4 linked regions of the Homo sapiens genome follow. The protein of the gene in region 4 interacts with the protein of the main gene of each other region in a biochemical or structural test. Each region holds a gene or a part of one and is shown on either strand. Other genes may lie near its edges.

The links. Proteins that work in one complex are often made in the same cells at the same time.
Region 1: the proteins of SMURF2 (region 4) and TFAP2B interact in a surface display test, tested with the Homo sapiens proteins (one large-scale study listed by IntAct).
Region 2: the proteins of SMURF2 (region 4) and CDH3 interact in a surface display test, tested with the Homo sapiens proteins (one large-scale study listed by IntAct).
Region 3: the proteins of SMURF2 (region 4) and SCN1A interact in a surface display test, tested with the Homo sapiens proteins (one large-scale study listed by IntAct).

Annotation. Positions count from the first base shown.
Region 1 is NC_000006.12:50,835,465-50,840,314, reverse strand, and holds part of TFAP2B (transcription factor AP-2-beta), read right to left. Parts: intron 4,255-4,850; coding exon 4,035-4,254; intron 2,341-4,034; coding exon 2,222-2,340; intron 160-2,221; coding exon 18-159; intron 1-17.
Region 2 is NC_000016.10:68,696,904-68,701,736, reverse strand, and holds the end of CDH3 (cadherin-3 isoform 1 preproprotein), read right to left. Parts: intron 3,645-4,833; coding exon of another isoform or gene 3,570-3,644; exon of another isoform or gene 3,547-3,569; coding exon 3,337-3,546; 3' UTR 1,445-3,336; downstream 1-1,444. UniProt on the Homo sapiens protein: Cadherins are calcium-dependent cell adhesion proteins. They preferentially interact with themselves in a homophilic manner in connecting cells; cadherins may thus contribute to the sorting of heterogeneous cell types.
Region 3 is NC_000002.12:166,124,277-166,129,783, forward strand, and holds the start of SCN1A (sodium channel protein type 1 subunit alpha), read right to left. Parts: upstream 3,745-5,507; 5' UTR 3,495-3,744; intron 2,735-3,494; 5' UTR 2,648-2,734; intron 1-2,647. UniProt on the Homo sapiens protein: Pore-forming subunit of Nav1.1, a voltage-gated sodium (Nav) channel that directly mediates the depolarizing phase of action potentials in excitable membranes.
Region 4 is NC_000017.11:64,546,877-64,551,726, forward strand, and holds part of SMURF2 (E3 ubiquitin-protein ligase SMURF2), read right to left. Parts: intron 4,829-4,850; coding exon 4,708-4,828; intron 926-4,707; coding exon 724-925; intron 1-723. UniProt on the Homo sapiens protein: E3 ubiquitin-protein ligase which accepts ubiquitin from an E2 ubiquitin-conjugating enzyme in the form of a thioester and then directly transfers the ubiquitin to targeted substrates.

The DNA of each region.
Region 1 (4,850 bases), on a different chromosome or scaffold from region 4:
GAGTCTAATAAACTCACTTGGTGGCCAACAGCATATTCTTTCGGGAGTGCAGGTCACTCGGGTCTGTGTGCTGCCGGTTCAAATACTCAGAGACGGCTTTGGCGGGAAACTCCGTTTCGCAAATGTACCCAAAATCCCTAGCTAAGTGAACAGCTTCTCCTGAAAAAGACAGCAGTAAAGGTAATAATCAGCACCCAGGCCCTAAATATCCCAGGGCGGAGACATTCCCTTGTCAGCTTTGTTAGTATTTCCAGAGAAGGCCAGCTGTTGGAGCCAAAAGCAAAGGTGAGAGATGCCTAAAGGAAAAATGATTCTCAAGCTATAATTAAAATTGGTGGGACCAACTTTGCTCCTGTCTCTTTTTCCTGCCTCTCCCTGAGCCAACTCCTAGCTAGACATCCCCTGAATAGCTACGGGGTCTCCTACACCCTAATCTTTTTGTCAAGAGCCACCTTATAATTGAATTTGGACATTTGGCTGGACATTTAAGCCAGATTCCTCTTTCTTTTTAAAGCATCTGTCACACTTGCTTTAAATAAAATTTAAAAGTGACCATCATCTTGCTACAACTGTATTCCAACAAATATATAAAAACAAGCCCATGTGTATATATGTCCACATATATTAAACACTATATGTAAAATGTATATGGAAAGAGTATTTCTATCTGCAATGAAATAATAATTCTCCTTGTCACTTTTCCTGCTAGTCAAGTTTCAGGTTTCTCCCCTTCAGAGGTTCCTGTCATCATCCTCCTACTTCAGGACTTTTCACTGCACAAAGATGACACAGCAGCTACAGAAAACTGGAGTATCTAAGGTATTACTCAGCTTATGTGAAAGCCCCTTTCAAGTAAAGCATTATTACCCTTTAAACACAGCCTTTTGGGGTTCAAGGACAGATCCCATACATGAAAAACAGATATGTTGAAATACCCCATAGCTACATTATTTTTAAGGAGGATGACTTACTTTTAATCATTATTATCATAACAACAAAAGACTTCAGGCATGGTGCTTACAAGGAGTCACAAAACCAAAAACTGCCAAACAAATATTGGAATTTTAGTGGGGTTTCCAGTTTCCTCCCTTCTCCCCTGAAATCCCTGTCTTGAGCTAAGGTTACCTTGATTGCTTTCCAAAATGAGGACTATGATATTAGCAATTCCCTGAAGGGTAAAATGTGAAACTTCCAGGCTAAGAGTCAACCACTAGTAAGTGTGGTCTGGAAATTTCAGTGATTCCTGCCTCTGGAGGGTGTTCAGGCCAAGCAACTTTGCCTTAAAAATGGCCAAGTATAAGGCCTGTAACTGTGATGATTAATGGTTGCTGCCTAAATATTTTAATATTCCATCTTCTAAAACCAACTCTCTACAGGAGCATCATAATATTACACCCATACAAATGGAATTAAAACACAAGACCTACAAGCTAGATGCTAGAGAAAATTCTGCATCTTCCTCCATTAGGACCATCTGACTGTATTTCATATTATTTCCCACAAATTCAACTGCAGATCCTCTTGTTCTGGACTGTGTAGATGATTTTGTTTATTACATACCATAAATATCATCCCCAAACCCAAACTGATGAGCAAATTATAAGGTGCTTATTGCAATTATCACCCTATAATTCACAATTGATGAATCTACATTGAAGATAATACCTGACTCCCCTACATATTTCTTCACCCCTCCTCCCCAATCTTCCCCTAGCTATCATTGGCCTTACTAAGCTATCAATATTTCAATAACAACATGTCCCAGGTAATCTGCAGATTTGGCCCTAGGAGTGACAAAAGTTTTAAAATAACCATTAGGGGTCATGAATGCAATGTGTTTTCTACTACTGACAATTCAAATCTGGCAAGGTGAAGGGGTATAGAATGAATTATTGCTTAAAGAGTTACTCTTGCAAGAGTTCACATAGAGGATGTCCTGCACGTGACAGCAGGAGTGACCCCTGCTTTGTCTTGGAGGCTGGACCTGAGCACTTTTCAGAGCACAGGAACTCTCAAATACTTCCCTTGCCCTGTCTACAACTGCTGGCTTCCTCTAAGTAAAAGGACCTTTGAACCTCTCTCAAGAAGCCGCTTGACATCCAGCTCATAAGAGCACAACAATCACAACGATTTCCAGTTAATCATGAAATGTGTAAAATGTCAGCCTCCAGCCGACAGTTAAGCTCAGCCACTTCGTGAAATGGCCACACGTCTTGCTTACCTTCCACCAGGGAGGTGAGTAACGTGACATTTGCTGCTTTGCGCCTGCCCGCGGGTAAATTCAAACCGATTTTTTCTAGCCTTTCTCGCAAAGATCTCCCCCCATTTTTCGATTTGGCTCTGAAATTGCAAGAATTAACATTCTGATTAACCTTAGAGTGTTCCTGAAACAAAGTTTAGACTTAGCAATCTAAAGCCCAGTGGAGCTTGAAGAGGTTTTAACTTGAGGTTAGCACATTTTTCCCCCTTCCTTTTGGTTATTTGCTGATAGTTTGCTGAGGTTTGCTTAATTTCTGCAATACAGAGAATTTTTTTTAACTGAGTGTTCTTTTTTTATCTTGTGAGAAAAGAAAAAAAAAGGATACCAGATGGGAATAATTAGGTGTAGGTTATGGGTCTAGAGAAGGTAGAAGCTGCACATGCACGTGCATGTTCCTTCCTTGTCATGGAGTTAGTGAGGTGAGCAGAAACTGGGCAAGCACAACCTTGCTGAAAAGAGGATAAGAGCCAGGTGGCTTAGAGAGGAGAGCGCACTTGCTGCAACAGGTGGGCTTTGTGAGGAAGGGGTCAAGAGTTGCTGTATATGGTGTTATGTTAAAAGGAGAGGGCAGACTGAAATCGAAATGGTGATGATCATAATAACAGTAAAACTAACACTTTTGGAAGTGTAGTTATGTGATAAGCACTTTATATTGATTATTTTACTTCATCTCTGCAAATTTATATATACAGGCTTAATGTTCAGGGGGTGATTGAAAACTTCCACACTCTGAGGCTCAAAGCACTCACTTGAAAACTGAATCAAAGGAGGGCAGAGGAAGAGGATTCAAAATGAGAAAGTTCCTGGGTCACACCCTTAATTTCTCCCAAGATTCTCCTTGTATGTGCTAAAGTATGGACAAAAGTACAAGTAAAAATCCTCAGTTACTGTAATCTCTTTTGCTGTACTATTCATACAGTCACTTTTAGGAAAGAAAAGGACTGTCAACCCCCAGAAGGGGTCATCTTGGAAAGTTTTGTCTCAGACAAAGTCACTTTCATATCAGGGACACTGCCAAAGTGTTCAGGCATTGGCAGGGACTTCAAGGGAGGCATTACATCTTAAGATAAAATCCACATTCTCTCACATTTCCACGAGGAGGAGTCAGTCTCTGGGCTGTGGAATACTGTGAAGCACCTGAATGGCTCCCAGGAATACCTATAAATACTTCTAAAGTGATATTATTGCTATTATTGGTGGTGGTGTTATTGAAAGAGGGATGTCACAAATTTAGAAAAAGAGTTTATCAAACTGGGTTACAGTGCATCAGCAGGTTGAAAGACCAATTTCACTGGGTGCCAACTGCATTTAAAACATGCAATAAAAGAGAAAGAGTACACTGAAGGTATGAAGAGAGTTGCTTCATGAAACTTATGGGGTTTTTTGTGGGGGGGCTGGGGGGCTGTTAGTTCCGCGTTGTACTCAGGCTGGAGAATGCCCCCTGAGATGTCCTAGGGGTGACAGGAAGAGAGGCGCCAGGCGCAGGGCCAGGAAAGTGAAAGGTTCCCAGGGCGGCAAAATCTGCGGTAGGACTTGCGCGGCGCGGGCAGGCCTGGATGCAAGGACACTAGAGTTTGTGGGCGAGCAGGTGGCGGCCGCGGATCCTCCCAAGCGCTGCGCGAAAGCAATGCTCCGGCCACCCGGTTGCTAGGCAACTGCGTCAGACTGCAGATTGGGTTTTGCTGGAACCTTCTCCTCACTGTCCAATAAATAAAAACTGGTGGGTTTTTGTTTGTTTTTTTGTTTTTGTTTTTGTTTTTCGTGGTGGGGTTACCTTCTGAGGACTCCGCCGAGGAGAGATGCATTGAGGCATTCAGGGGGCGACAGCCGTCTCTGAACTTCTCCCACAGTTACTTTGTACTTCGAAGTTGAACTGAGCAGAGACAAACGGCCTGGGACGGAGCAAAACACCTCGCCGGTGTTGACAGACATGCCTCCCAGGAAGCCGTCTTTATTCATCATTAGAGAAGTCACCGATTTGGGAGGAACTGGAACTAGAAAGAGAGAAAAAATTGCCATAAAGGTGACCAAGTTTCGATCCTGATGACCGGCTGATAGAATGTGTCTCTGTGTGAGGCCACAGGACAGACACCAAGTGGAAAGCTGAGGGAGGAAGTGTTTATTCCAGTGGGGCTGCAGTGCGTTCAGAGAGCTGTAAACAAACAGATGGCAAAGCCATACCTCCTCTGGAAACTTACTTCGTGTGTAGACATATGAGTGTCATTTGCTACAGTCCTGCTCACTACCCAAATCAAGAAATCAAACAACCCAGAGTTTGGACTGTGCTGGGAACCAGGCAAATCTTATTCCATCGTGTGCTAACTCTGTGACCTTAGACACCTGACTGACTCTGTCTGAACCTCCTCAGTTTCCTTATCTGTCTCCTGAGGATAATAATGCCTATCTCATTTGGTGCTGAAGCCTGACGGTGATTATCACCATGCGGTGATATAAAATGGTAATTCCAATGGAAACCCCTTCCTCCTTTCCTATTGGACCCAGATCTATGGTCATCACTAGAAAGGATAAGGAGGGTGGACCCCATCAGATACTATGCCCAAGAACAGACAAATAATACCATTGAGCTGGG
Region 2 (4,833 bases), on a different chromosome or scaffold from region 4:
ATTTTTTAACTAAAATACAAAAGAATAGCTGGGCATAGTGGCAGGCGCCTGTAATCCCAGCTACTTGGGAGGCTGAGGCAGGAGAATCACTTGAACTTGGGAGGTGGAGGTTGCAGTGAGCTGAGATCGTGCCACTGCACTCTAGCCCCGGGGGGAGAGTGAGACTCTGTCTCAAAAAAAAAAAAAAAAAAATTGTGTGTAATGCACAGGAGAAACAGATCCTGGAAGGAGGCACACCAAAGTGTTGAAACACAAAATTCAAAGGACCGATGGTCCTCATCATGGCCAGCACATCAGTTGTTTCTGGTTAGTGTCCACTCTGCGTGGTTAGCGCTGGTGTCTTACCAATGCAAATGTTTTTACTTATTACAGGCACTAAGGATCAGAGTCCTAAGCTTCTGTTTTGCAGATGAGAAGCAGGCCCAGAGTGAGAGAGTGACTTAATATTGTCCCCATCACAGAGCCCAGGCTCTGATTCTTTCTAAACCTCTCGGGGGCTGGTGACTGGTTCCATTGCCAGGGGACTCTACATCCATCCACCGAGGCCAGTTGAGGCTGGGAAAGGCTGTTTTTCCTCCAAATATCTCAGGGGAGGAAGGCCAGCCTAAACAGGGGCTGCTTGGTTTCATGATTAGCCTCTGCTGAAGATAGAGTTTCTGATTTATCCAGGCTTCTCTGAAGGGAGTTGAAGATAACGGGCAGCAGGTGTTTGCTAGCAGAGACACCCAATCCTCCCACACTCCCTGTCAGCAAAGACAGCCCTGGCAGAGGGGAATCTGAGGCCCCAGCTCAGTGGGAGAGGCAGGAGGCGGCTTTGTCCTGAGGGTGCCATGGACCAAGGACAGGTGAGCTTTCTCATCCGACTTCATACCCTTTTGTTGTTGAGATAGGGTCTCACTCTGTCGCCTGGGCTGGAGTGCAGTGGCGTGATCTCGGCTCACTGCAACCTCCACCTCCCGGATTCATGAGATTCTTGTGCCTCAGTTTCCCAAGTAGCTGGGATTATAGGCGCCACACCCAGCTAATTTTTGTATTTTTAGTACAAAAATGTGTGTGTAGGCCGGGCACGGTGGCTCACGCCTATAACTCTGCACTTTGGGAGGCCGAGGCGGGCGGATCAGGCCAGGCTGGTCTCGAACCCCTGACCTCAAGTGATCCACCCACCTCAGCCTCTTAAAGTGTTGGAATTACAGGCGTGAGCCATGGTGCCCAGCCCCAACTTCATTTCCTTTTGGTTTCTCCATCCAAAGTCTGAGGCTTCAGGCTCCTTGGCCTCATCCTTCAGAGTCTTGGCAGCAAACCTGAGTGTGCAGGAGCATCCCACGGAGGGCTTGTCAACCCACAGCAGGGCCCTGCCTAGAGGTTCCGATTCAGCAGGTGGCACCGATAACTCCGGTTCAGGGTCTGTGCTTTGAGCAGAGACGCTTTACAGAATTAGTCATCCTCATGGAAGGAAATGTTTATTTCAACATCAGCAATTTCCTCAGCTTCACTTCAGATTCTTTTGGCTAATTGCAAAGATGACTTTGAACTTCACGTTAACAAGGGCACAAACAGAATTGTTCTATCACTGCTGCCTATTCCTGATTCCTGCATTTATGCCCTGGTATTGTCAGGAATGTTCCAATTTCACTGACATCTTGGGTAGGTTCTCTTAATTTTGTTTTGCTTGATTTCGATGATGACCAGATGTCATTTAAAAAAACAAATACAATGTGGCCATTCTTTAAAGGAGAAAGTCCCCTCAGAGGGTGATTGTGAGGATTTAGAGGAAATAATCGAAGTCCTGTCTGGCCTTTAAAAGTACTGAATAAATGGTAGCTGTTACCAACTAACAGATTGCATGGACCATGTGCCAGATATTAATTCACTTAATCTCCACAAAAACTCCCCATTTTGTAAATGTAAAATCTGAGGCAACTGGAGGTTAAATGATGTGCCAGCGCTGGGCGCGGTGGCTCAAGCCTGTAATCCTAGCACTTTGGGAGGCCGACGTGGGCGGATCACGAGGTCAGGAGATCGAGACATCCTGGCTAACACAGTGAAACCCCGTCTCTACTAAAAAAACACACACACTCAAAAAAAATTAGCTGGGCATAGTGGCAGGCACCTGTAGTCCCAGCTACTCGGGAGGCTGAGGCAGGAGAATGGCGTGAACCCAGGAGGCAGAGCTTGCAGTGAGCCAAGATCACACCACTGCACTCCAGCCTGGGCGACAGAACGAGACTCCGTCTCAAAAAAAAAAAAAAAAATGTGCTAGCAAGTAGCAGAGCTGGCTGTTCCCCAACCCCTGCCTTTCAACAGGGACCCCTCCAGCATAGAAGAGGAAGTCGTCACACACTGTCCTGCAGGGAGGGCAGCCGCTGTTCCAGAAGAGACCTTGCTGGGGCTGTGGAGGGGCTCAGCCTTGGGGTAAGAGGTTAATGGTTCTCTCTCATGGAGCAACTGACTTTGCAAAGGAGGGCAAGTCTCCCCTCCCTGAGCCCACTTAGGCATGGAAGCTGACCCTGAGTATCCCCTGCCATTGAGAGGAAGCTTGGGTGAAGCCAGCAGGGTAAACAGAGCCCACTCTTTTTGCAGAACTCTGAAAATTCTAAAAACCATTGAATTGTAAACGTTAAACAAGTGAATGGTATGGTATGTGAGTTAGATGCCAATAAACCTTCTATTTAGAAAACAGTTCACTCCCCAGGCACCTCTGGGAAAAGTTTCTTTAATAAAAAAGTTCTAGTACATATACACGATTGTCCTCACCCTTCATCTATAGCAACGCAACAGGGAAAATAAAAAATAAGGGGCAACCTAGGCACACTCAGTATAAAAACGCAGAGATCCATCCGAATGGGAGGCATTGGGGTCTGGAAACCAGAAATGCAGGACGGCCAGTGGGCCCAGCAGCTCTGGGCTGCACTTTTGAAGAACTTTCTCTAACGTTTTGAAGATAGCATTAAAAAAAAAAATTAAGTTGCACCAGGAGGCCTAAGAAGGTTCCATTCCAGAGAGAAAGTCCACTGTAGGTCAGTCACAGCAGGCCCAGGCCCAGGACACAGGGTTGAGCATTTTACGGCAGGTAAGAGGCTTCTGGAAACTTGGCCTCTGAGGCAACCCTGGCCCAGGTGGAGAGGTTTTCAGTGCTGAAGTCAAACTGCCCACATTCCTCCATCCTGAAAGGCTAAGGAAGCCACCACTCTAACGTCAGACTCATAGCCTGTCTCCGCCAAGTTGCTACGGCCACTTCCTGACAAGCTCCGAAGTCCTCAGCTGAAGGGGGAACTGAGACCCCTTGGAGATGCTCTGTGGCCTGACGTTTGGTCCCCAGCCCTGCAGGCAGGCCGCCTAGTCGTCCTCCCCGCCACCGTACATGTCTGCCAGCTTCTTGAAGCGGCTGCCCCACTCGTTCAGATAATCGTAATCTTGGTCTTGGTCGGAGGCGGAGGAGGTGAGGGAGCTCAGGGACGCGGCGTCGGAGCCGCTGCCCTCATAGTCGAACACCAAGAGGGTGTCGTAGGGCGGGGCTGTGGGGTCTGTGTTAGCCGCCTTCAGGTTCTGCGGCAACAGAGAACAGGTAGTTAGGAGCGGCGGGTCCTGCCTCTTGCCAGCTGCAAGCCTCCATTTCCTCTCTGTGAGCCCCTCTCTCCCCTCCCCTAAAGGTTTTGGAGGTAGAAATGAAAGAATGCGTTATTCATGCAGAATTCATTCACTCAGGGACCAGCAGACAGCAAGTGCTCAGTGCAACACAGGCCAGGGGGTAAGGGCAAGGACTGAAATCAGACAGCCCGGGCCAGAACTCACACCACACACTAGCTTTGTGGCCTTGGGCGAGTCCCTTAACCACTCTATGCCTGTTTCCTTGTCTGTAAAATGACAATAGTTTTTTTCTTCCTTTTTTAAAGGATGCATGCCTGTGACACAGCCTCGGGAGGTACTGAGGACATGTGCCTCCGTATAGTTTTAAAGGAACAGATGAATGAGTAAATGAGTAAATACCTGTAAAGCAGTTATTAGAATAGCACCTCGCAACAATAGCTATCATTATCTAATAAGCGCTACATGCTAGGTCAGTAGTTCCGAAACTTAAATTATCTGGAGAATCTTTTATAAATTCTGAAGCCCAGGCCACACCCAGTTCAATTATATCACAATCTTTGGAGGTGAGCTGAGGCATCAGTGGTTTCTGAAGGTGCCCAGGTGATTCCAACACGCAGGCAGGGTCGGGAACCACTGTGCTGGCACTGTCCTAGCTGCCTGCTCGTTCAATCCTTGAAGTCTTCTACAGCAGAGGCTCCAAACTTTGCCCCCCAGGTGCAATCACCTGGGATCTATAATCCAAACCCAGGTAGTCTGGCTCCAGAGTATTCAACTGCTATATGTGTTGAATAAATGAATAAATCATTCCTAATTTTTTTTTTTTTAAAGATGGAATCTCCCTTTGTTGCCCAGGCTGGAGTGCAATGATGTGATCTCGGCTCACTGCAACCTCCACCTCCTGGGTTCAAGCGATTCTCCTGCCTCAGCCTCCTGAGTAGCTGGGACTACAGGCGCCCACCAGGACGCCCAGCTAATTTTTTGTATTTTTAGTAGAGACAGGGTTTTACCATGTTGGCCAGGATAGTCTCAATCTCTTGACCTTGTGATCTGCCCGCCTCAGCCTCCCAAAGTGCTGGTGGGATTACAGGCATGAGCCACTGTGCCCGGCCTTTTTTTTTTTTTTGAGATGGAGTCTCCCTTTGTTGCCCAGGTGTGGGGGGCGCACGACAAGACATTCAAGCCTATGTAAGAGGCATGTGAGGTCGAGGCATGGAAAAATATTGAGGCGCTGTGTGCATGTTGTTT
Region 3 (5,507 bases), on a different chromosome or scaffold from region 4:
GATGGCTCACTCCTGTAATCCCAGCACTTTGGGAGGCTGAGGCAGGCAGATCACTTGAGGTCAGGAGATCGAGACTAGCCGGGCCAACATAGTGAAACCCCATCTCTACAAAATACAAAAATTAGCCAGGCATGGTGACACTCGCCTGTAGTCCCAGCTACTGGGGAGGCTGAGGCAGGAGAATCACTTCAACCCGGGAGGCAGAAATTGCAGTGAGCCAAGAACGTGCCACTGCACTGCAGCCTGGGTGACAGAGTGAGACTCTGTCTCAAAAAAACAACAAACAAACAAACAAACAAATGGAGTGGATTTGGGTAATCATTCTAAACCAAACTGTTTTTGGAATTTTGGCATGTCAGAAAGCAGATGAATTACAGCTCACATGTACGACTGCACCCAACTTCAGTCCTGAGTCTCTTGGCTAAGCTGTAGCTCTACCATCACATGGATGATGAGCAAACATCAAGAACACAGACGCCATGGCCACGGTGTGGCTGGACTGCTTGGATTCTGCCACTTACTAACTGTATAACCCAGCAAGTTAATTGAACCTCACTGTGCCTTGGTTTTGTCACCTGTAAAATTAACAATAGTATCTACCTCATAGGATTAAATGAGATCATATTTGCAAAGTACTGCTTAGGATAGTGGCTGGCACAGAGTAAATGCTATATGTTTTTGATAAATAAAACAATTAATAAATGGAAATCTAGGAATGTGGACAAAATTTAAAAGTTGGAAAAGCAAACTTTGGGGCAGCTTGGGGAATTCTGTCACAACTTATTTTTCTGATCACAAGTGCAATGAGAATAAATTTCTTCCCACCCTACCCTAAACTAATGCAATCTCAATTGAGCGGTGGAACATGCTTCATTCACTAATTAGAATTTAAAAAGGAAGTGATAACCTCACGGAGCACAGCCCCATTGACCCTGAGGGTGACTATACAGGACCTTCAATTGCTGATTCTCTCCCATCCTTCTCTGGGATCTGTTTCTCCCACCCTCCCCATTCTGAGGTAGCTGGAAGAGAGTAGGCTTTGTGCCCTTTGGCGAGTACAGGGAGAAAATAGTAGGTTCAGCCTCTCCAACTGCCCAGGGAGAAAGCAATACCTTTCAAGGTCCCCAGGCTAAATTTTGGAGGGATGCTTTTGTGTGTCACTGTCAGGCTCACACCGACATAAACCCTTGAGAAATGCCTGGTTGGTGACGTCCTAGAGGTAACACCAAGCAAGCCCCAGATTTTCTCTTCTTCGTCAGCAATTCCCAGATGAGGTGCTCTTGTGTTTACCCTCTCTGATTGTCTGGATTCCCTGATAGTACCCTCTATACAAGGAACTAGAATGTTTCTTACTGGATTCCTCTGTTGGTGGTGATAGAGTTTACTTTGGGTATCTAGTCGGTCTGGTTGCCCCTGGTATCTCTGGTTGGTACAACAGAATCCTGACTGAGCTCCTTAGTGCCTTCTTGAATACTGTATAATTAACTAGGCCTCCAATTGTGCCCCGCCTTGCCCCAGCCCATAGATGGACAATCCCTCCTGCCATGTCTTAAAGAGAAATTACCATAATAAATGACTCTCCAGACAGCACATTTCCCAGCAAGAGGGGGCATGTAAACCAAGTCTATTAGTATTGGCAGCAAAATCCAATGTGTTATTGTTACCAGTATGAACACTCTGGGTATCCTGGCCTCCTATATAGATATTTGAAACAAAACAGACAAACAATGTGAAGGAAGGAGGAAAAACAGCCACACAAATGAGTTACAGTGAGTTTAATGAAAACTAATTCCATTGCTGGGTCCATGTGATATAACCAGCCACTTGTGCTCTGTTCTAGTGGTTTATAATGTTACCTCACCCTCTCCAAGAAATTGGTTTCCCGTAAATCTCTGTGGCCATTCATTCCTGTCTACACATTATGTTCCTAAAATAGACACCAGCTAAAAATCTCTTCCAGGAGCTTTGTGAAGGAAGGCCTAAATTGCAAAACTCCTCCTAGAAGAGAGATGTGATTTTGTAATTGCTTCATTGCAATTACAAAAGCAACAATCATAAAAGAGAGTTTTAAAAGAGTTTTTCACCACAGTCATTCTCCTGAAATGCACAGCTGAGGGAAAGAAGAATGTCAGATGCCCCGCGAACGTGCAGAAGCTCCCAGTTGCATCACCCTGGCGTGCCAGGTATTGCAGCAAATAGGAAAGGTAAGCTACCCACTTCTCTGGGCAGGAGAAACTAAAGCAGGAATCACCAACCTCAGCATGGAATTTTCCTATTTCTGTCTGGCAACATCCTCTTGGGATGATTTAAAGTGCTTTTTGGAGAAATATGTTCTGTTACTATACTAGCGCATCAGAAATACCACGTGAACCTGTAAATCCATAGAAGAAGAAGACACATTTTATAGGTGTGATAGCAACAGCAATTGGCAATTTGCAAGTTTGCTACTGCACTCAGAAATATTTAGTCACATGCACATATTGACAGTAATATACCCTGCCTTGACTTAATTGTTGCATTGGACAGGTGAAAAGCACATACCCACCACTCCAGACCGATTTGTTAACAATCACCAGTGAGTAATCAAAGAGAACAAAAAGAAATGAGAAGTAAATGCAGCAAGTGGGTCGGGTCTTTAAACACATACCTCAAACAGGTAGGAGTCAGGAAATCCATGATAGCAAAGACATTTGGACAAGCCTCACCTCCACTCAGAAATAATTCTTATGCTGTTCTGAAAAGCAAGACGGTTCACACTAGGAACTGAGCAGTATCTGCAGTATCATTGCTGGTTGTGACCTCTGTCTAAGTAAAAGTAAGTCAATGTTTCCTATTTGGCATTGGATAGAAAAGGGGACTCTTTACCACTCTGCTCAAGCTCTTTTTTAGTGTGGCTCAATAGGAGTTGGCAGAGGTGGGGGGCGGAAATCATTGCCCCTTCCTTGTTCAAGGCATGAGGCATTTCTTCTCAAAAGCCCAGCCTCAGCCTCAGGAAGCTGAATACCCCTGCAATGCTAGGCTCCAGCAGCAGCCCCGCTGCCTTCTTTCTTCCTGTGGAGTTAAAACTGAGATCTAATTTTTGCTCCGTCCTTAAGAACAATATGACCTCTATTCCCAGCCAGCTAGTCCACTTCCAAAGCACCAGTGAAGGAGGGGGCTTCAACAGGATCAAAAGGGACCTTGAATAGGATGAAGGCAAGCAAAGGCAAGAACTGGCCAGATGCCAAGCTATTTCAGGCCAAAGAATCCCATCTTCTATCAAAATGCTGAACTGCAAAACAAACCTGATTTCAGTTCATGGAAGGTTGAGAGAGGAGGGGGGAGGGGAGGGGAGGAGAAGAGGAGGAGAGGGAGGAGGGGGACAGTTGGTCTGAATACACATACAAAAATGGACTTCCTGCTCTGCCCAAACTGAATTTCCATGGACTCTTTTTCCAAAGGAATAACTGGAATGAATAAACTTAAAATCAAGATGAAACAATTAGATGGCTTACCTGATTAAAAGGAAAATTATCCATCTGCAGTGAGGAACAGCATCACCCAAAGACGAGATGATAACAATGTGCCTTCAGTTGCAATTGTTCAGATTCCTTCTTGCAAAAGGTGTCAAAGTATTTACAAGGGCTGCAGTCTCACTGGGGCAGAACACACAGACACACAAACACACACAAACGCACACATACACACATGCACCAGAGACCTCTGCAGTATCCTCTCGGCTTCATCCTCGCCTCACTCTATGGTACCTAATACAAATCAGCAAATAGCTTGTTTCAAAAAAAAAAAAAAAAAGTCAAGACAGCACCTTACATTACATCGCCATCTAGTGGCTAAATATTAAACACTTTCTCACAATCCAGATTTATGATTTCTTCCTCAACCTCTTTTCTCTCAGCCTTTTTTCCTTTCTTCTCTGTAATCTCCCAGTATTGCTTCTCCTTGCTTCTCTTTCATTCCCTATTGCTATATAATATCATGAACCTAATGACTCAAAGAGGAAAAGGTTTGAAAGTAAATATAGCTATTTTCAAGTAGTACTTGAAAAACTTTAGCATTATTTTAGTTTGAAACTGTTACTTTATTCCTAATATGAATCATTGTTATCTATAAAAATGATATATCTTATAAATAAAACTGTCTTTTTATTCCACCAGGAAACAATCAGGTGGCCCTTTATTACAGATCTATGGCTTCACATTTTTCTGTTTTAATATTGTGTTTTAGGATTAGGTTTCATATTATAGTGAACAGCTCAGAGTCACAAAATGTGAGTTTTACTTCAACACTGATGAACACATGCCTTTAACAAAGCCACTGAAGTCTTCTATGGACATTTACATTCTTACTATCTTCATCTGTAATTACAGATTAAACAAGACTTTCAACCCACTCTCAATTTCTATGGTTTTACTATATTTTACTCCAATGTTTTCCCATCTTGTGGACACAGCCTAAAGCTTAATTATAATAACACATTTTAATAAGCAAATATATATAGAAAGAGAGTCCAATTGCCTATTACCCAAAGATAGAATTATAAAAACCATGAATATCAGTTTTTTCTAAGACAATAAAAATCCATGCCAAACTAATTATAACTCTTGGAACTGAGAGTAGAGCTTTTTATGTTATATATTGTATTCTAAAATGGAATCAGCCTTAAACATTCAGTCATACATAAAATCACGATTATGTGTAGATTAGTCATTGGAAGTAAATATTTCATCCTCATTATTTTTCTTTTGCCATCTAACACACTTATTACAATCATTGCATGTGTTTTATCATTTATCAATATAACCTTCAATATTTAATCCTTCTCTTCCTTATTACAGGATGGTGAGATAAATACTATTAATGTTATTATATTATAATTATTCCTATTTATACTTGAGAACACTGAAGCTTTCTGAGCCTTACTGAGGTTTATTCAAGACCACATAGCTTGCAAAGCAATAAAACTAAGGCTGTTGGTCCCAAGAGCCCAAAGAATAATCCACTGTTCTTTGCAACATACCTAAAAGTTCACCATTTTTTCCTGTTCTAGAATCACAGAAAAGTAATTTTGATTTCTATGTTTACAAAACATTTACTAGCCCTTAATTATGGACCAATGGGTCCATCTTGTGGATCCATCTTTTTATCTATAAAAGAAAGAAATTAAGTAAGATAATTTCCTGTTCCAGCTCAAAAACTCTATCCAGTGCTTTCCCAAAAGCCAGTTGGAGTAGCATGAACACATTCATTTGAAGTTACTCAATGTCTGGGAAATGATGTTGCCCAGTATCTGGTAGAGTCAGGGCAAAGTTGAAAGAAGATGAGGAGACAGGTGATCAACAACTGGTAAACGATTGCCAAGATGTTAGAGATGAAAAGAGAGTGGGAACTGCATGAACTAACAGGCAATTTTTTTAGAATAATACATTCCATATGAATAGTACTTAGAGATTAGATATGTAAAAACACAAAATAAGAACATACCTGGCCACATGTTTTAATGAATTCTA
Region 4 (4,850 bases):
CAGCTGAAAGCACGCTCTCCCCCCAGGGATTTCAGCGCATGCGCTGTGGGCAGCACTGTCGAATTATGTACCAGTGTCGCTTTGTGTGTCCTTATTCATCACCAGCAGCTTTGAAAATGAAGTGCTTAAGAGGTAAAGGAAGCAACTGCCACCCAGTGAAGCACCACAATCATTAGCAATATTACCAGCTCCTCCCAAAATTAACCAGCTTATTCCACAGAAAACCATTCTTAAAAAAGGAATATGGTTGTAAACAAATGGTCTGATGCCATGCAGTAATTAAAATGCTCTGACCGAACAGATGGTTTCCATGACCCATGCTGCTTCTGTCTAATAAGAGAAAGAACGAAAAGTAGAGGGGAGAGGCATCCCAGGCAGGTAAACGTTTCACCAGGTCAAGATGTGAACATGGAAGTGAACGACTTCCCTACAGGAATGTGCAACAGAATTAAAAGTAAGGTGACCAGAAAACAAAGGCAGAGCATCACCACGTACGGTCTCTAGCATGCGGCACTCACTACAATCAGAGAAGCCCGCAGAAAAGGCTCTTGGGAAGGGAACAAAAGAAAGGAGGGAGAAGAAGGTATCACAATGTGAGAGTCACAGATAAGAAGTGAAAAAGAGAATCTCTAAGCACATGGTTTACAAAATATCTCCACAGACCCCACGCTGACAGCCCCGCCCCCACCCGCTGCCCAGCTTGCCTGCACCTCAGGCTGTTACCTTGCAATGCTTTGAAGCCCTGCAGAGGCACTCGAGAGGATCCTGTCACAAACTGAAGCAATCTTGCTCGTCGCTCTTCATCAAAAAACTCCACAGCTTTCCAGAACCATTTGACAATGTTGCTGTCTGGTGTACAGTGTTTTAACCGGGTGTTTACCTTCCAGTCATTAACATCTATCTTTCCAAGTCCACAAATAATGAGCTGTGAAAATAGTACACAGTAATGAACCTGTGGAAACCACAGCCAGACCAAAAATTCCTCAAAAGAGAACTTTAGGTTTGTACTGCTGGCTGTCATTTGGTGGTTCCTAATTAAAGATGCACATCAGAATCATCTGAAAAGCTTTTCAAATTGACATTCCAGGTCCTAGGCTCAGAGATGTTAATTCTGTGCACCTGGGGTGACAGTTGGGATCTATATTTTAAAAAGCTCCAGAGATATCTACTCACTGCAAACTCCCTCTCCAGGGTCTGAGAACCACAGCTGTGATAGACTTGACCAGGTAAACAATTGAGAATGTTTCATAAGTTCATAATAAAATTATAAAGCTTTAAAAAAAATGGACAGAAATTGAGACCCAAAGAGTAAATACAGATATGTGCCTTCTTTGGACCTGCATCATCTACTAGTTTCAATACCTATTAGCTTTGTTGATTGAGGGCAATTCAATCAATTCCTCTGCTGTAATATGGTAGTAACATCCATTTCACTACATCCTGGGGAAGCAACCGATAATGCACAGAAACTTCAGAAATGGGTGTTGAATAAGTGAGTCATACAATTTGCTTAATAATTTTTTTTTTTTAAGACAGAATTTTGCTCTGTCTCCTAGGCTGGAGTGCAGTGGCATGATCTAGGCTCACTGCAACCTCTGCCTCCCGGGTTCAAGTGATTCTCCTGCCTTAGCCTCCCAAGTAGCTGGGATTACAGGCATGCACCACAATGCCCAGCTAATTTTTGTATTTTTAGTAGAGATGAGATTCCGCCATGTTGGCCAGGCTGGTCTCCAACTCCTGGCCTCAAGTGATCCGCCTGCCTCAGCCTCCCAAAGTGCTAGGATTATAGGTGTGAGCCACTACACCTGGCCTACATTTGCTTAATAATATTAAATTGATATTAAAGCACAAAATACATGAGCACATTGATACAGACCTCTGCTAAACACATCCTGATGGAGGGTCACACAGATGAACTATATCCAAATCATTTTATACTATCATTAATATGTCTCCCTAGGGTTCAAGACTAACTCACCATACTAATCTAACATGTTTGTTTATAGCAGTGAATTCCATGTATACTATAAAACATAACTTGCAAATCCTGTATTTTATAGAATTACACCCAGGATTAATATATACAATGCTAAAATAAATGTTATACATATTGTCTTTAAAAATTGGTAGGGTGTGGTAGCTCACGCCTGTAATCCTAGCACTTTGGGAGGACGAGGCATGCAGATCACTTGAGGTCAGGAGTTCAAGACCAGCCTGGCCAACATGGCGAAACCCTGTATCTACTAAAAATACAAAAAGGTAGCCGGGCGTGGTGGCGGGCACCTGTAATCCCAGGTAAGGCATGAGAATCGCTTGAACCCAGGAAGTAGAGGTTGTAGGGAGCTGAGATCCCATCAGCCTGGGGGACAAGTGAGACTGTGTCTCCAAAAAAAAAAAAAAAAAAAAAAAAAGCCAAAATAATGTTAGCCAGGCGTGGTGGTGCACACCTGTAGTACCAGTTACTGGGGAGACTGAGGTAGGAGGATCACTTCAGCATAAGAGTTAACAGTGAGCTAGGATCATGGTACTGCACTCCAGCCTAGGCAACAGAGTGAGACTCTATCTCAAAAAATAAAAATAAAAAGTTTAATGATTCAGGCCTGGTGCAGTGGCTCACGCCTGTAATCCTAACAATTTGGGAAGCAGAGGCAGGTGGATTGCCTGAGCTAAAAAGTTCAAGACCGGCCTGGGCAACATGGTGAAACCCCATCTCTACTAAAAATACAAAAATTAGCCAGGCATGGTGGTGCACACCTGAAGTCCCAGTTACTCAGGAGGCTGAGGCACGAGAATCGCTTGAAAACCTGGGAGGCAGAGGTTGCGGTAAGTGGAGATTGTGCCACTGTACTCCAGCCTGGGTGACAGAGTGAGATTCTGTCTCCACAAATAAAAAAAAGAAAAAAGAGAAGAAAAACAAAGTTTCATGACCCATTAGCAGTAGAAACTATATTAAAAATCCTAACCCTACCAAATAAAGTCTCCAGTAAGGCTTCTATGGGGTTCTGAAATAAAATCTCCAACAAAGCTTCTACAGGGTTCACTGAATTAACACCACACTGAACAGGGAGGAGGTTATCCGAAAAGGATTATGGGTGTATTTAATGACATAAAAGACACCTCCTAAATTCTTTTCTTCAGAGGAATGGCAGTTAGAAGGCCAAATCCTCGTTTATTGTATAAAGAGATGAAAATGCATTATATTTCAACCTTATCGGCATTCCTGCTATGTTCTCCTTCTAACTACTTCCTTCTGGCTATTTCACTATGAACAATTCAATCACAAAAGGAATGGGGAGAGTATTAAGTAAAACCAACCTTTTTAGATTTGTTTGCTAACAGGTCTATTAACAGATTTATTTAGAAAGGACATTGAAGGCATTGAATAAAATCATGTTTCAAATTATTAGTAGACTTCAAATATTTGTGTTATCCCTAACTACTAAATAAATTTGGGACCTTTAATAGAATTAAACCTCGTGTTTTTTAGTTGTTCAGTAGGAAATTCAGATGCATTTGTTTAAGGTCTTAATTACAAAACCTGGGGTGTTTAAGGGCCAGCTTTAAAAGGAAACAAAAAACTATTCACTGTTTAGTATGGCCGTTAATCTAAAGACATTTAGAGGCCAGGTGCGGTGGCTCACACCTGTAATCCCAGCACTGTGGAAGGCCGAGGTGGGTGGATTATTTGAGGTCAGGAGTCCCAGGCCAGCCTGGCCAACATGGTGAAACCCCGTTTCTACTAAAAATACAAAAATTAGCTGGACGTGGTGGCAGGTGCCTGTAGTCCCAGCTACTTGGGAGGCTGAGGCAGGAGAATCACTTGAATCCAGGAGGTGGAGGTTGCAGTGCCACTGCCCTCCAGCCTGGGCAACTCTGTCTCCAAAAAAAAAAAAAAAAAAAAGAGAGAGACATTTAGATTCAATTTATCCTAGGTGTTTTAGTTATTTTCTCGATGATCTTGTCTATCAAATGCTTTCTTGCAAGCTTAGTGTAAAACTAATTCAGAGTAGGCTCTTACCCAAATAAATTTCAAAATGGTAGATTAATGAGGTTTTACTTAACTAAATCAGTAACCACTAAGTTAGGGAATAGACATATATTGGAAGAATGTACATATAAGTCACGAAATCTGTTTAAAACAAGAAAGTACAGGATAGAAAAATAAATTAAAAATTTTCACAATATAAGAGAGACTGCTCACAGCTGGGCATGGTGGCTCAAGCCTATAATCCTAGCACTTTGGGAGGCCAAGGCAGGCGGATCACTTGAGCTCAGGAGTTTGAGACCACCCTGGGAAACATGGCAAAACCCTGTCTCTACCAAAAAAAACAAAAAAATTAGCCAGGGGTGCTGGTGCATGCTTGTAGTCTCAGCTACTTGAGGGGCTGAAGGATCATTTGAGCCCAGGAGGTCAAGGCTGCAGTGAGCCATGATTGCACCACTGCACCCCAGCCTGGGTGACAGAGTGAGACCCTGTCTCAGAAAAAAAAAAAGAGAGAGAGAGACAGATTGTTCACTCACAGAAATTCCAAAGCATGAAAGGCCTTCAAAAGCATGAAAGACTTTTCCTGTGAATAAGAATTCTCAAGCATAGAACCATGAAACTTAGAAAGCACCAGAAATATGCTTTCCTCTAAAACTAAGTAACAAAATAATTCCCAATCCTTCCTTGTTACACTAGTGATGTTATAATACTAATGCACTAACCTCTAACTCCTTCTCATCAAATGTCTTCAGCAGATGTTGTGGAATTACTTCATTAAATCCTTTCTGCAGAGCCAAGAATTGAGCCTCAATGCCTCGTAAAAATCTCCAGTTCACATAGAGCCTGTAAACATTCGGCAGGATTT